2 separate regions of the Homo sapiens genome follow, and region 2 is linked to region 1. The links come from fine-mapping of genetic effects on gene expression. Tissue or cell type: esophagus muscle. Region 1 holds a variant in brackets; the other region holds the start of a gene. All regions are shown on one strand. Distances are between the middles of the regions.

Region 1 (8,103 bases):
GGTCTCACAGCTGGAATGAGACTGAGCCAGCCCTAGCTCTTCTGTGTTGGAGTCACACAGACCTGGGTTTGAATCTGCCGCTAACTGGCTGTGTAAACATAGGCAGGCCACTTAGCCTCTCACCTCCTCAGTTTCCACCCTTGTAAAGTGGAATGCTAATGCTGCACCTTGAAGAGCTGTTATCAAGTCAGAGACGCTGTATATAAAGTGCCACGCTTGATGCTGAGTGGATAGTGGGCACTCAAACAAAAGCAGTGATTAGTGTTAGTACTTTCATTCTACAACCTCAGTCAAATGAGGGACCAGGCCCAGGGCCAGATCCTCAAAGTGGAATCCCGGTGACTCCCCAGGAAACCAGGGACTCAGGGCTGGAGTAACCTCCATAAACAAACATTTAGATGGTTTTTCCATCCTTGCATCCCAACATCCCACCCTCCCCCTCCAAAACACAAAACTCACCACCATATCCTTTCCTAAAGCGATCAGTTGGCCCATATTCTGTCTCTCTTCCTTCCTTCTTTCTTTCCTTCTTTTTTCCCTTTCTTCCCTCCTTCTTTCTTTTCTTTTTTTTCCCCTCCCTCCTTCCCTCCCTCTCTCCCTCCCTTCCTTCCTTCCTTCCTTCCTTCCTTGTTTCCTTCTTTCCTCCTCTCATTTATTTATTCAACAGCCATTGAGCACCTCCTGTGTCAAGCCTGTAGGACTCAAGAGGAGAGAGCTCATGCATGAACAGTGCCTAGCAGGGAAGAATTGGCACCGGGGAGAAGAACAGAGGAAGTTACAGGGGTTAGAGGAGGGGGATGTTTTCCAGCTGACAATGATGGGGGTATCAGAAAGGCTCTTGGTGAGATTGCACCATTGCACTCCAGCCTGGCAACAAGAGTGAAACTCCATCTCAAAAAAAAAAAAAAAAAAAAGAAAGGCTCTTGGATTAGGCTTTTAACATCAGGCAGGCGCAGGATGCAAGGCATAGAGAATGAGGTGATATAGGAAGCGGGTATGCCTATAGGACGAGGCATGGCGGAGGGAAGGGCTAGGTGGAGACAGGGATCAGAGGGCTGACTACAGAAAATGACCCATGATGGGGTGTATGCAGCTGGAAAAGGCTGTCAGGGCAGACTAAGGTCTGTTCCCAGAGGCCTTTGATCACCACAATATGGAATTAAAATGTGAGTGTGTATGTCTCAAGATATGTCAACTTTGGCTATGCATTAGAACCCTGTAAGAGTCTTAAAAAACAAAACTAGGGTCCAACACTAGACATATCAAGGTGGAATCTCTGGTCAGAGATCCATTCATGGAGCTCCCAAGGTGATTCTAAGGTTGGAAATTATTGCTGTTGGCAATGGGAATCTTTAGGGCATGATCAGAGTTTCAGAGTTGGGCTGGGAAGATGGAGCCTACAGGTGTGTGGGTCCAGTTACTAGACAGAGGAGCCAAGGCCGCAGCAAGCACTCACGACCAAGATGTGGCCTGCAGCAGGGGAGATGCTGACAGTCCGGACTTGATGGCTGATGGGACGGGAAGGGGCAGGGTGCCTGGGATGGGGCGTGGAGGCTGGGGGATCTTGAGAGTGCTGAAGGTCAATGAGAAGTGGGTCTGGGCAGTGCAGGATGGTCAGGTGTTCTGTCATCGCTAGTATGACTCGGCCCCACCCGGTGGAGAGAGGTCTCAGGGCCCACTGGAGGCAGCTCCTACCCATGACCCCTGCCTCTGCGTTGGCATTCAGTAGCCCTTGATTTATCCCAATGCAAGAAACAAATTTTCAATAACTGGTAACATTCTCCGGGAGTGATATGGGCCAGAGCAGGCTGGTTTTCAGGCTGCCTCCCTGGTCCTGAGATTGCCAGCTCAGAGGAGCATCCCCTGAATGAACTGTCAGCAGGATGTGAAGGAAGGACATGCTGGAGCCACTGCTGTCCTCTCCCCTGCCGCCCAGGCTTGACCAGGTGTGGTGCTGATAGCAGGCTGCAGGAGCTGGGAGGAAGCAGTGGAAATGCCCTTCGTGTTTTTGCCAAGCAGCTGGGTTGTGGGCTAGCTGCTCCTTCCGCCTATGTCCATCATAGGGGTTCAAGTGGCTGGGGCTCCAGGCTAGCTGGGTGTCCTCTGGAATCACTGTGAAGGGCCAAGAAGACTCTCATCCCACCCTCCAACTCTGAAGGTAGGGGCCATAGTCTGCCCTCAGCTTTTCCTGTGAGTCTTAGCCTGGAGCAGGTGAGTTCTAAATTCCCTCCCATTGTCTGTCCTGGGGACCTTACACTGCAGGGCTTGGGAAAAAGCTGGTTGGTTTCAGATCATTCAGATAACTCAGGCTTAGCTGGACCCAGGACAGGAGAGAAAGGATGCATTCAGGCCCCGGCTTCTGGGTTTGGCCATGAAGAGTGAATTCCTGCCCAGTGTCTTGCCAAACAGGCCCAGCATAAAAGATCCAGAGGAACCCTGAGCAGGCAGAGGATACACTAGGCCCAGGATGGACAGAAGCCTCTACTTCAGAGCTCATCCATAGACCTCTTTTTAAGAAGGTAAAGAAGGAGCTGTTGTTGCAATTTCATAGATAAGTCAAAACATATTATTATTAATAATAGCATCTTCCACTTTTTTGAGTTCTTATCGTGTGCTGGGCTTCTGTGCTCAGTGCTTTACATGCATCATCTCATTTAATCCCCATGACAGTTCTCCTAGGCAGGTAGCCTCACAAACCCATTTTACAAGGCCCAGTGAGGTTGTGGCAGTTGCCAAGGTCACACAGCTCAGAACTCAGGCCTGTCTGACTCCATAGCCACACTGCTATTTAAGGAGCTAGGTTAGCCAAGGTCACAGTCAGAGGCATTGGAGAGACTCAGGCCAGGCCCCCTCACCGTCAGCTCAGGATGCTGGATTATATGCTACTGAGGACCTGGCAGTGTCCAACAGCTCTGAATGCCAGATTCCTGAGGAGCCAGCGTCTCCCCAGCCTCAGCTACTCCCTGGCTGGCTGGGGCCCTAGATCTGAGTGCAGCATCTGCATTTCCCAGGCTGTGAGAACTACAGTGCAACCCTCCTCTGTGTTGCTGGAGTGAATGCCCTCAGGGCAGGCAGCTTCCAGGGTGGCACCTCATATAAATCCAGGGAGTGGCCGAGGCCTGCAAGGAATCTGGCTCAACACCTGCCATTTGGGTCTCAGTTTTACACATTTTGATCTTGCACATGATTTCACTAGGGCAAAATTAAGTGCATGAAGGAATCACACATTCCTGGGTCTCGCCCTCAGTGATGCAGAGTGGGTAGGGACCTGGGCTATGGGGGCCCTGTAGGTATTCTGCTGCAGATGGGGGCACCACACTTGCAGCTCAGAACAGAGATAAAACCAGATAAAACTCCGCTTTATGACTGCTTTGCATCACTTTCCAGCTGGCCTCATCTGAACAGGGCAGAAAGTTCCTAATAACAATAATCAACGTCAGAATTAAATGTGTGTCATGCTCTGCTGGCACAAAACTCTTTTCAATGCATTCTTTCTTTCCTTTGGATCCCAGTGTCAAATACCCGCTTGCCAACATAGTTTGTTTGCTGTACACAGGTTGAAACTGCAAAGGTTTTCAATTTTAAATTTAGCTAATATTTTACTTTTTTTTTTTTTTTGAAATGGGATCTCGCTTTGTTGCCTTACCTGGAGTGTAGTTGCGAGATCATAGCTCACTGCAGCCTCCAACTCCTGGGCTCAGGTGATCCTCCCACCTCAGTCTCCTGTGTAGCTGGGACTACAGGTACACCACCATGCCCACCTGGATAATTTTTAACTTTTTTTGTAGAGATAAAGTCTTGCTATGTTGCCTAGGCTAGTCTCGAACTCCTGGGCTCAAGGGATCCTTCCCCTTCGGCTTCCCAAAGTGTTAGGATTACAGGTGTGATCTGGTTTCTAACTTCTCTTAAAGTGTTGGAGGTCTGGCTATTATAGATCTTCTGGATGGCCTGACATCCATTGCCTGGAGGGAGTGGTGACTGCCTGTCTGGAGGCAGCTGGCTCTCTCCCTATTGACAGGCCCTGCCACACCCTGGCAATTCTTCCTGGCACCAAGGCAAGAGTCAGTGGGCACCTGTCATCTCATTGCTTTGCCTGCTTCACCCTCTGACAATACCTTCATGAGCCCTGTAGGCAATTGAGCACATGATCTCGATTTCAAATACACAGCCCACTTGGCCTGTGTCCCTCCCTGGTTTCCTTAGATAGCTCTGTGTGAAGTCCTTCTTTCATAATATCCTTTGAAACCGATATTCACCCATTTAAGTGATGAAGCTTCAGGGCTCAGAAAGAGTGAGAAATTTGCCAAAAATTCTACAGCCAATCCAAGCAGAGCCAGGACTCCAAGGTAGGACCTGCGCCCAGGTGTGTAGCCTGTACCCCGAGCAGCTCCAGCACCGCCATCCACACACAAGACACAAATGAGAGCGTGCTCTCCAGACCTGTACAGCGCATGGCCTGCCAAGCTTTAGACCAAAGCCCCGACTCCAATCCAGGGGCCCGACTACAAAGCTGGTATTTTTCTTTACTCCATATCAAGCCCTTGGCTAAGAAATGGGGATTTCCAAGCCCAC[A/G]GCTGCTCTTGTTTCTCCCCACAGTGCTCCTACATCCCAGGCAGCGTGGACAATTACCAGACGGCCCGGGCCGACGTGGAGAAGGTCAGAGCCAAATTCCAAGAGCAGCAGGTCTTCTACTGCTTCTCCGCACCTCGGGGGAACGAAACCAGCGTCCTATTCCAGCGCCTCTACGGGCCCCAGGCCCTCCTCTTCTCCCTCTTCTGGCCCACCTTCCTGCTGACCGGTGGCCTCCTCATTATCGCCATGGTGAAGAGCAACCAGTACCTGTCCATCCTGGCGGCCCAGAAGTAGAGCCATCCATCCATGCCATACCACTTGTCAGGGCACAGGGGACTGGCTGGGCCCCCAGGGCTGCTCCCCACTTGCAGCACAATGCCTTCTCCACCTGCCCTCCCACTCTTCCAGTCCAATCCACGCTGTCTTCTGTTGCAGGACTAACCTTTGAGAAATCCTTTTGTGAAGTCATTGCCTGCTCAAGAATGTACAGTGGCTCCCCAATGCCTTGGAGGCCATAAGGCCAGCCAGTTCTAGCTCTCTATTACCTGTCCCCACTCAACTGACTCATACCTGTTTCCGGCTGCATCACTATGTGCCCCACAGAGAACGATGATCGTCACCTCTGTGCCTGAGTTCTCCCTGTTGTCTCAAAGCGGTACCCATCCTCCCCCAGAAGCTGTCCCCAGCGAGCCTCCCTTCTTTGTTTGAATTCTCTAATAAGAGCAACAGCAGCTCCCATTTCTAGAACACATTTACAGTATTACTATTTTCTAGGATATAAAGTGCCATATATATTTTTAATTCCAATATTAATAAATGTATGCCAAACAACAATCAGCTGCAAGGAAACACATGAGAACTCATCAAAATTTTAGCGGTGGGATGGTGGTTAATTTCTGTTTTCTTCCTTATCCCCTTTTTATTTTTGCTGCTTTTCTAAATTTTTGATTATAGGAAGGGTGTGTTTCGTTTGCTTTTAATCAGAAAAGCCATGGTAGATGCCATTTTGGAAAAGTTGAAAGAGTGTGTCCCCCTCACAGAAAAAGATGGAAGTGGGTCTGGGGACGGAGTTGGGTTCCAGTCAGAGACAGGCCATTCAGAACACACAATCTTAAAAACCCCTCTGGGCCGGGCGCGGTGGCTCACTCCTGTAATCCCAGCACTTTGGGAGGCCGAGGCTGGTGGATCACGAGGTCAGGAGATCAAGACCATCCTGGCTAACATGGTGAAACCCCGTCTCTACTAAAAATACAAAAAATTAGCCAGGCGTGGTGGTGGGCACCTGTGGTCCCAGCTACTCAGGAGGCTGAGGCAGGAGAATGGCGTGAACCCGGGGTTCGGAGCTTGCAGTGAGCCGAGATTGTGCCACTGCACTCCAGCCTGGTGATAGAACAAGACTCCGTCTCAAAAAAAAAACAAAAAACAAAAAATGAAAAACAACCCTCTGGAGGAAAGGTCATGATATAGAGGAGGATTTGTTATTTAAATTGAGGGTATGGACTCTGGCACTGAGCCTGCTGGGGAAGCCTATCTCAGATTTGAAAAGGGCAAAATGGGAAGAAGCCATCACCTTTACCATTCCCACTCCAGGAAGTTTTCCTAGAACGATGACTGTCCAAGTGTGGTCCCTGGGCCAGCAGCATCAGGATCCTGTGGCAGCTTGTGAGAAATGCACACTCTCAGGCCCCTGTCCCAGCCCCACCACGCCAGAAGCCCTGCACGGGGTGGGGGTAGCAATGTTCTGTGTTCTAACAATGCGTAGGGGATTCTGTGGCACACCTCGAGCCAGAGAACTACCGGTGTAGGAAGTGAGCGTCCTGTCGCGAGGATTTTCAGAGCAGGTGAGTGACCATTCGGCAGGGCCAGTCCTGAGCTGGGTGTGAAGTTAGGCTGGTGTCTGAAGTTTCTTCCAGTGTTGTGAGTCCAAGATGCAGATCTTGGGTTTGAATCCTGTCTCTACTCTGCCCGATTTCATCTCTTTGATTCTTAGTTTTTTCATCTATAAAAGAAGGACTCTTTCTGGATAGTTGGGAGGGCTGAAGGAATGTTTGACACATCATAGGTGTTTAAAATGGCAACTATAGTTTTTTTTGTTTGTTTTGTGTGTGTGTTTTTTTCTTAACTTTCATTTTAAGTTGCAGGGTACACGTTCAGGTTTGTTACATAGGTACACTTGTGTCAAGGGAGTTTGTTGTGCAGATTATTTCATCACCCAGGTATTAAGTCTAGTACCCATTATTAAAGAAAATGTGGTACGTATACGTCATGGAATATTATGCAGCCATAAAAAGGAAGGAGATCATGTCCTTTGCAGGGACATGGATGGAGCTGGAGGCCAAATATTATCCTTAGCAAACTAACACAGGGACACAAAACTAAATACTGTATATTCTCACTTATAAGTGGGAGCTAAATGATGAAAACACATGGACACAAAGAGGGGAACAACACACACTGAGGCCTATTGGAGGGCGGGAGGTAGGAGGAGGGAGAGGATCAGGGAAAAAGAGCTATTGTTAGTAACAAGAAAAAGTCGGCCGGGCGTGGTGGCTCACACCTGTAATCCCAGCACTTTGGGAGGCCGAGGTGGGCAGATCACGAGGTCAGGAGATCGAGACCATCCTGGCTAACACGGTGAAACCCTGTCTCTACTAAAAAATAGAAAAAATCATAGCCGGGCGTGGTGGTAGCCGCCTGTAGTCCCAGCTGCTCAGGAGGCTGAGGCAGAAGAATGGCGTGAACCCGGGAGGCGGAGCTTGCAGTGAGCCGAGATCGCGCCACGGCACTCCAGCCTGGGTAACAGAGCAAGACTCTGTCTCAAAAAAAAAAAAAAAAAAAAAAAAAAAAGAATAAGTCATGAATACTCAGAAACTTCCAGAAGTTATACTGACAATGTTATCTGGCATGTATGGGTGCTTATTTATTCTGTGCCAGGCACTGTACTAATTAGTTTGCCTTGGAAAAAAAAATGAGATACTCCTGAACCTGCCTCACAGATGATGAGAAGCAACAGAGGACAGTGGCTAAGTATGTGGACTTGGGATGTGCACTGTTTGGGTTCAAATTCCAGCTGTGCTGTTCACAAGCTGGGTGACTTTGGACGAATAACCTTTCTGTGCCTGTTTCCTCGTTTGCAAAACGAAACTGATAATAGTATCTTTCCATAGAGTTTTGGCATGAAACAAATTTTTATGTAAATTTCCTAGGATAGTGACATATGGTAAGTGCTATCTAAGTTACTATGAAAAACTGAGGCTGTAAGAGGTAACTGGCCAAGGCCATCTGTAAAGTGAGGGGCTAGGACTCAAGCCTGGAGCTGTGTGTTCCAGTACCTGGCATCTCAACCACAGAACTCAGCAGAGCCAGCTGTGAAGGGCTGAGGGACAGAGCCAGCTGTGAAGGGCTGAGGGGCAGAGCCAGCTGTGAAGGGCTGAGGGGCAGAGCCAGCTGTGAAGGGCTGAGGGACACAGCCACTCAAAGCCACAGGGGCCAGGCAGGGAGCTGCGTTGCATCCCTGGAACCCAGGTGCCC
Region 2 (8,103 bases), 48 kb after region 1:
ATTTGCTCTCTCTCCTCTCCACTCTCTCTTTGTCTCTAACTCTCTCTCTTTGTCTCTCTCTAACTCTCTGTCTTGCTCTTCTTCCCTCTTTCTCTTTGTCTTCTGTCTCTGTTTTCTGGCTTAGGAATATCTTAGTAAATTAATACCTAGAATCTGGAGGAGCTATAGACCTCTCCTTTCTGCCTCCCCTCTGAAACTTTCCACTCTGAGCTTAGCGGCCGCCTGAGCCCAACCCCGGCTCAGCACCTCTATGAGTGCAGCACTGTTATATATCACTGTAATTTTCTCCGGCCTCAGAAACACACAGCTAAGCCTCTCTCCTCATGGTCCTAAATGTAAATGAACACTGTCCCTAGCTGGGAAGGCCAGAATCATAAATTGGCTGTGTTTCTGCAAAGCAAAACTTTTTAACCAGAAAGATGTACACTCTTTATCTTCTCGGCTGGAGGCATAGAGAGATTTAAAAAGAAAAAAAAAAAGAGAACAGAGGACCCACTGGGAAAGTGGGGATGAGGGGAGAGAGAGAATAAGCAGAAGGCAGGAGAGACAGAGGGTGATTGAAGGAAAAGAGGGGCTGCAGAGAGGCTCACAAGAGCCATAGCCATCTCTCTCATGCCATAGGTAAAAAATTTAACATTAGATTTTTCATTTCACAGACAGATAAACTGAGGATGCTAGGAGCTCAGCAGCAATACGAGAAGGCAGGGTATTATCTAAAATTAAGAACAGTGCAGCCAGGGTGGGAAGAGAGGGAGCTTTGGAGCTCCGTAAGCTCCAGGAACTGAAAAACCACAGTCTGCCTCATCTTTCTCCCTGTCCGCGGAACTGAACTAGCCTCCAAAGCCAAACGGGTTGTTCTGCTGACTTAGCTTTGCATGGCGAATGCATTTGAAGCTTCTGTAGGTTTCCAGAAAAATTGTGCATTTCCTAGGGAGTAAACACCATAGCTTGATTCATATTATCAGTTTTGGGGTCCATCTACCCCATAAACCACACATGACTCCACTTTGCTGAAATAGGAAAGATGGTGCAGTGATGCAGTAATATTAGCAAGAAACAGCCAGATAGGATCTAAATGGGGCAAGGGTGTTGATTTGAGGTTCAGGAGAAGCCTTGTGCCATTTTCCCAACCTCACCATATAAAGCATGGGTGAGGGCCAAAGATAAAAGCTGCTTCCGCCCAGAGCACATTCCCAGGGATCTCCTGGTACAGTCCACAGTACTGATGATCAAAGCAGTAACAGCAGGGTCTTTGCACCACCTAGGCCAACTGAGGGTTCATAAGCTAAGCAGGCGTTCAGCTTTGTTACCCTTGGAGAAATGCTGCATTTTCACTAAAGAGCATTTCCTGTTGCAGAGAGGAGAGCTCGGCCCCCTGCCGGGATAATCACAATAAAGTCTCCGTTGATAAAATGGCCAAGGGGCAGTGTCTCAGGTTTCTCTGGTTTGCAGGTTATGGAGCTCACTTGTGAGCTCCAATCCTTGTGAGTGGAAGCATCTTTCTGAGACGCTGCACCCTCTGCTTTCCACTGTACATTCATGGTGCTGGGCTTGGGGAAGCCAGGGACCAGGACTATGGACTGAGTGCTTCCCACACCCATCACCCCAGGACACATGCTGGAAGATGTTCTCTTTTCTAATAAACCATCTACTAAGAATATCCGTTAGTCATGTTCTCTTTTCTCCTGAAAGTCAGGCGTGGGTGTCTGCCTAATGTCCGGGTCCAGTACAGTGTCTTCTGTGTGCTGAAAGACAGTCGGAGTTTCTCTTCTTCCTGTGGTTTTGTGGGCAGTGTCGTTTTGTGCCAACCTGCTGTCTGGGACTGATGAGCGCTCACCCAGCCACCCTGAGACTTGGTGGTGGACAGATGCACCCTGCTTCCTGAGATAGGTGCTGGGACCCACAGGGTGTTGAACAGATCCCTCTGGTCATGAAAATGGCCCTCTGGCAGCCTCTCAGTGACCTGTGTAAACCAAAAATAAAATTCTAAGTCCCCCAACCATCTGAATGGACCCCTCGCCTCGGCCAATAGCCTTCCAAAGTTAACCTGAAAAACTAGTGCAAACCGTGGTGGGAAGGGAGGGTCGAACGTGCCTCATTATTTCCTGCTCCCTTTTGGAACTCAGGCACAACTGACCAGCATTAACATTAAAACAGACCTTAGGATTGACAAAGCTGATTCTTTGTAGCAATAAGACACCAAATTCCAGCCTGGCTGTAGTATAGCATCACATGACAGAGAGCAGGCCCTGAAAAAAAAAAATCAAAGTATTTTGCCCCAAGTTATGTTTATTTGCTGTATCTCAAAATAGTCCTGCAAAGCTGTCTCTTGTGGGGAAAATCTATATTTCGAAGAGAATCCCCTTCCTTTTCGTGCTCCAGGAGAGAATTAATTCTGATAAGAAACATTTACAACCTATTCTCTCTGAAGCCTGCTACCTGGGGCTTCCTCTGCATAATGGGAACCCTGGTCTCCACAACCTCTCATCTTAACCCAGACATTCTCTTCTGTTGATTCTAGGTCTTTAGATGATAATACAACTTTTTCAACCAATTGTCAATCAGAAAATCTTTGAATGTATCTATGACTTGAAGCCTCTGCTTTGAGTTGTCCTGCCTTCCCGGACCAAACCAACGTACATTTTCTATGTATTGATTTATTTCTTGTATCTCCCTAATATATATAAAACCAAACTGTAACCTGACCACCTTGGGCAGGATCTCCTGAGGTCTGTGTCACGGGCTATTGGTCACTCATATTTGGCTCAGAATAAATCTCCAAGTATTTTATAGAGTTTGACTGTTTTTGTAGACACCTGGGACAGGAACTCTTGGCAGAGCAGACCCCTGGAGGCAGCACCCCTGCTGCTGTGCCTGCTTTCAAAACCCCATGGCTCGTCCTTCGTCCCCTCCTCTCTGTCTCTCTGTGACTTGAAGAAGGATGAAAGGCGGCCTGCAGGTGGACCACAAAAGTGGGAAGCATCATTCCCACCCAAGAAAGGAAAGAGAACAGAAGACGCCTGATCAGAGCCTTCCTGAGGTCTCATCTCCCCTATCTCCGGGGAGCTGAGAACCACCCCCAAGGATTTGGTGGGTCCCCTCCCCAACAGGCCCCTCCACCTCTGGTGAAAGAGCTCTGCCCACTTCTCTGCTTAGTCTGAGCTGATAGGAGGGAAAAGGAGAGCACTGTATGAGTCACAGGTCTCATTACCTCCCCTCATAGCCCAGGGGAAGGGGAGATGGCAGAGGCGGGTAGCAGGCAGGGCTGGGGATGTGCCATGGGGTTCCCCTGGCTTCTCCCCACAGAGGCTGAACCTCCTGGGGGAACATTTGAAAGCCTCAGAGACCAGCTATGGTGCCAAATACTAATGGCCTCAGTTTCCCTTCCTATCCCCCACCTTTGCACGAGTGTGAGTACTCACCCCCCGTCAACTATGTGACCTTGGGAAGACCCCTCTGAAAGACCTCACACCATTCATGTTAGTCCTCCTTCCCCACCTCCCCACACCATCCACACACCACATGCATCAAGCCCCACCGACTTCAGTCCTCAGCATCCTCGCCCCTCAAGAGGGCTGAGAAAAGGAACCATGCTCTTCACGAGCCACCATACAGACGTGGGAATTCCCCTGAAGGTCAGAACCACAGCTCCTTCTCAGCAACTCCTTCTGGCCCCAGGAGTGGGAGGTCTCATGGTCCCAAACAAAACGGAATTGCCTGTGACTCATACCCAGCCCTGCCTATTGAGAAATCTACTTCCGGTGTTGGGGGTGTGGGGTGGTGCGGAACTGGAGCCAGGAAGGGGTGTGTTTGTGTGTGTGTGTGTGTGTGTGTGTGTGTGTGTGTGTGTTCCTCAGCTTCCTGGCTACTGAGTCTTCTCAAGACCAGAGCTCCCTGGCTTTTCAGAAAACCAGCTCTCAAATCATCTAGATCATCTATCCCCCTTACTAGGTAGTCCAGTGTGGCCCAAAGCCTATTTGGACTTTTTTTTTCTTAAAGGAGAAGAAAAAAAGAACCAAGTGAAAACAGAAAATAATTCAGCCACGTGAAGCTGAATTATTATAGCTGCCCCATGTGAGTCGGGAAAGAGAAGGGTGCTTCCTAAAACATGTTAGACAAGGCACTCTGCGGCTTAGTCCCATCCTCCACGCCCCGAAGTCTGCAGCTCTCTCATCATCTTTGCTGCTTGAGTTTTGAGAGGGGCCCAGTGTGCCTTCTGCAAAGCCTGTGCCACTTGCTTCGAAATGTGGCTGTCTCTGGAGGGTTCTCACGAGTCCCACGCTGGATCCTGAGGGCACAGAACTGAAGCTGTTTCAGTTTTTGGTTTGCATGTTGTTGTTACTGTCGCAAAAGGGAAATATCAACTTGGATATTAACAAAATGGAGAACTGAGACCCACCCTGCGATTTTTGCCATTTTCTCATTTTGGTAGAACAAGAGCAAAGAACAAAGGCGCCTTCTAATGGCATAACCTAACTTTTAAGGTAACAGCATCATTATATGTTTAAAGCAAGAAAAGAAGAGGAAATAATGTTTGTCAAAATCTATCATGTGTCAGACATTTTACCGAACTTTCTCCCCTAAGCCCAATGACATAGGTACTTGTGTCCCCATTCCATGATGGGGAAATGGGGGCTAAGAAAGGTGCGGTGACTTGGTTAAGGTCATACGTGTAGAGATGAATGCTAGAGAAAGGATTCAAAATCAGGTCTGGCTGTTGCTGAGTTTCCTGTATTTTCCAAGTTCTTACACTTTCCCTAACTTCCCTGCCTTCATCTCTGTCCTCTCCTCTGCTTACTCTGTTCTTTTCTGTTCCTCAAACACACAAAGCTCATTCCCACATCAGGACTTTCTGTCTCTCTTTGTTTGGCTGCTTCCTTTCTTATCATTTGGGACTCATCACAAAGGCCACCTTCTTGTAAGGTGACCTGACCATTCCTTTTAAAGTAGTACCCTCTGGGATATTGCTCTGTTAATTTACTTTACAGTACTTCTCACTCACCTACTTTGTTTATTTCCGTAGTCTGTGACCCCCTACCCACCCCTCACTGACCCTGCAACAGACACTAGAATGTAGGGCTAGTGAGAGCAGAGGCCTCTTCTTTCTTGTTCTTCTCTATATCCAAAGAGTCTGGAGAAATGGCTGGGACATTGAGGACATTCAGAAATATTTGTTGGATGGATAGGTGGGTGGGTAGATGGATGGATAAACAGGTGGGTGAGTAGACGGATGAGTGAGTGGGTAGATGGACAGGTGGATGGGTAGATGGATGAGTAGATGGATGGATGGACGGATGGGTAGGTAAATGAATAAAATGGTAGATGGATGGACAGGTGGGTGGGTAGATGGATGAGTAGATGGTTAAATGGACAAGTGGGTAGGTAGATGGATGAAAGAGTAGATGGATGGTTGGATGGGTGAGTAGGTAGATGGATTAGTGAGTAGATAGATGAATGGATGGATGGGTAGATGGATGGATGGATGAAGATGAATGAGTTGGTGAATGTACGTATGTATGAATGTATGGTGTCTACTATATGGCAGGTTCCAGTGAGGATGTAGAGATGAATAAAATGATGTCTCTTTGATCCAAATGTTTGCTTTGAAATGAGGGAGACCTTCTCAATAGTCAAGTAGTTGCATCAAAGTATATTAGGTGTTCTGAGGGAATATCAGATCTCAAAAGCACATTTGGGATAGAAATGAGGAAGGGATCCATTTTTGCTGCTGGAGGGTGATCAGAAAATGCTCTATATGGGAGATAACACTGTATCTGATCCACGAAGGATAAGTGGTTATTATTCAGGTAATCAATGAATTTAAAAGCTTCCCTGCAGCCTAGGAAAAGGGAAAGAAGCTGAACACAGTCTTAGAGTCTAAAAACTGCAAGCTATTTGGTGTGATGGGACAAGAGGTGTGAAAGATCTGGTCTTGATTGCTACTGCATATTCAGTGTTTAGCATTCAATTACCCTACTATTGGCACTTCATAATAGTACTCAAGAATAGGTCCTCAATAATTATTTGTTGAAGAAAGGAACAAAAGGAGAGCACAGGGAAAAGTAAAGCTGGCAAGATTGACCTGTGCTGGGTACTGCTGGGCTAAGGAATGTAGATGCTAGTCAGAGGAAAATGGACCATCACAGAAGGGTTGATGAGATGCATGTTTCTGATGGTCACCCTGCTAAGCACAGGAACTGTGTTGGGGAAAGTCCAGGAAGTGGCAGGAATAGACAGAGTGGACTATGGCTATGGTCCGAGTGTGGGATGTTGAGGACCTGAGCTAATCAGGATAGTGTACGTGAAAAGGTAAAGAGGGATTCTAGAGACTTGAGGAAGGTAGAACTAGAGTGCTATCCATGGTTCCATATGGATGAAGAAGGGAAGAGGGAGGGAATATAAAGAGAAGAATTTTCCATGCCCCTGCTGGAATGACTAGATGCTAGCCACTGGAATACAAAATGTATGGGGTGGGGTTCACCATGAAGCTAATGAAGGTTATGTGCGAGAATCCCTCCCTTTCACATCCACTATCAAGGTCCTAAACCTACTCTTGTATTCATTGTTTTCTTTTTATTTATTTTTTCCTAAAGAGCCCCTTCCTGGCCAATTATAGAATCCTCAGGCTCCACCAAGCCTGGATCTTCCCCTGGAAATACAAGGAGAACAGTTTGGGGGAAAGGATTCCATTTGGATTGTGAATTCCATTTGGGGCATGGTAGGTTAGAGGTGGATGAAAAACCTTGAGGTGGAGATGTTCTGCAAGGAGCACAGTGTGGGACAGGGCTTGAATCCTGGCTTCATGCTGTGTGGACATGGGCAAGTTGTTTGAGCTCTGTGCTCAGTAAAATGGGATGTTAATGATAGTACACCCTGATAGGGTTGTAAAGATTAGATGAGACAACATAGGTCAAATGCTTAGAACAGTGCCTAGCACATAGTGAGTGTTGAAAACAAGTTGCGTGTTGGCTTTTGGTATTCTGTGGGGCAGTGTATATCTGAGAGTCACTGGAGTTGAGGGTGGCCTTGGGGGGAGTTGGATTGTGTAGCAAGAGTGTATTAGGGCTTGATATGAGGAAGACCAAGGACAGAGCTCTGATATTTATCAGGGTGAGCAGAGGAAGAGGAACCAGCAAAGGAGGCTGACGAGGACTAGCCAAAGGGGTCCTGGAAGCCAGGGGAGGGGAGAATACCAAGCAGACACTCAGTCATGGGTGTCACCTGCTGCTAAAAGTCTAGCAAGAAGGTGACCACAAGAGGCTGCTGGCATGGGTTTTGGGGACATCTCAGTGACCTTGTCAGAGGGCTCTCGGTGGAGAGTTGGGTACTGAGGAATGAAAGTCCCATGCAGACGACAGGTGTAGATGGTCTTCTGCAGAACCTTGGCTTTGGGAAAAGACAGGAGGCAAGAGGCAGAGGAGAACAGAGGCAGAGAGAAGGTGTTAGGGTGGTTGATTTGTTTTGCTTTGGGAGGACATGATTCACTGTTTAAAGATGAGATTCACAGGCTTTGGGGGCTGTGATGAAGAGTTGGTGTGTAAAGTTTAACAATTTGAGGAAGAAATAAAATAATTGATTAAAAAAAAAGTGAATGCCTTGAAAGAATTAGGAAGGGGAGGAACAAGTGACACAATAAGTGGCCAACCCTGAACTGCTCTCTGAGTCTCGAAGGAAGGGGGCAAGGGTGGGAAGGTTATAAATAAGCTTCTAGGTAGGAGGACAGGAAATGGGGCAGTTATGCCTGATAGCCTCAGGTTTGTTGCTGTGAAGTAGGAGGATAGATCATCTGCAGAAACATAAATACACAGCTTCTCCCACACCGTGGGCACTTAGGACAAATTATGATTACGAAACTTAAAATCTCAAGGGAATATTAGGGTTAGAGGAACCCGAGTTGATGGTAAAGTTATTAATATCCCTACAAATTGTTTTACTTCGATTAATATAAAGCAGTGAACAAAGCATACCGAGTAAAAACAACCTCAGAGGCAATTTGCACATCTTTGTTAGTGCTCTACCGTTAATTTTAATTTGCAAACCTTTGTTTGCTTGTAGGTGCTTGAAGCATTTCAGGATCTTCCTACCCTGAAGTTTCAACTTACA

Evidence for each region. PIP is the estimated chance that this variant, and not a neighbour inherited with it, causes the effect.
Region 2: LINC01366 starts here. The variant in region 1 is fine-mapped to the expression of LINC01366 in esophagus muscle (GTEx, PIP above 0.99). The same link has a PIP of 0.9 or more in gastroesophageal junction, sigmoid colon and tibial artery.

Annotation. Positions count from the first base shown.
Region 1 is chr5:170,375,467-170,383,569 of GRCh38, reverse strand. KCNMB1 (potassium calcium-activated channel subfamily M regulatory beta subunit 1) reads left to right here. Exons shown (of 4, transcript NM_004137.4): 4 at 4,597-8,103. The coding sequence ends at 4,866. It also overlaps a transcript of KCNIP1 not described here. Among named protein-coding and RNA genes, the nearest start is that of KCNMB1, 9.8 kb to the left of the region's middle. The variant A/G (reference allele first, on the strand shown) is at 4,573.
Region 2 is chr5:170,326,994-170,335,096 of GRCh38, reverse strand. LINC01366 (long intergenic non-protein coding RNA 1366) reads right to left here and starts at 3,704. Exons shown (of 2, transcript NR_108025.1): 1 at 3,520-3,704; 2 at 1-1,963. RefSeq lists enhancers at 705-1,552, 1,587-1,636, 1,553-2,402, 3,468-3,637, 3,202-4,401 and 1 more.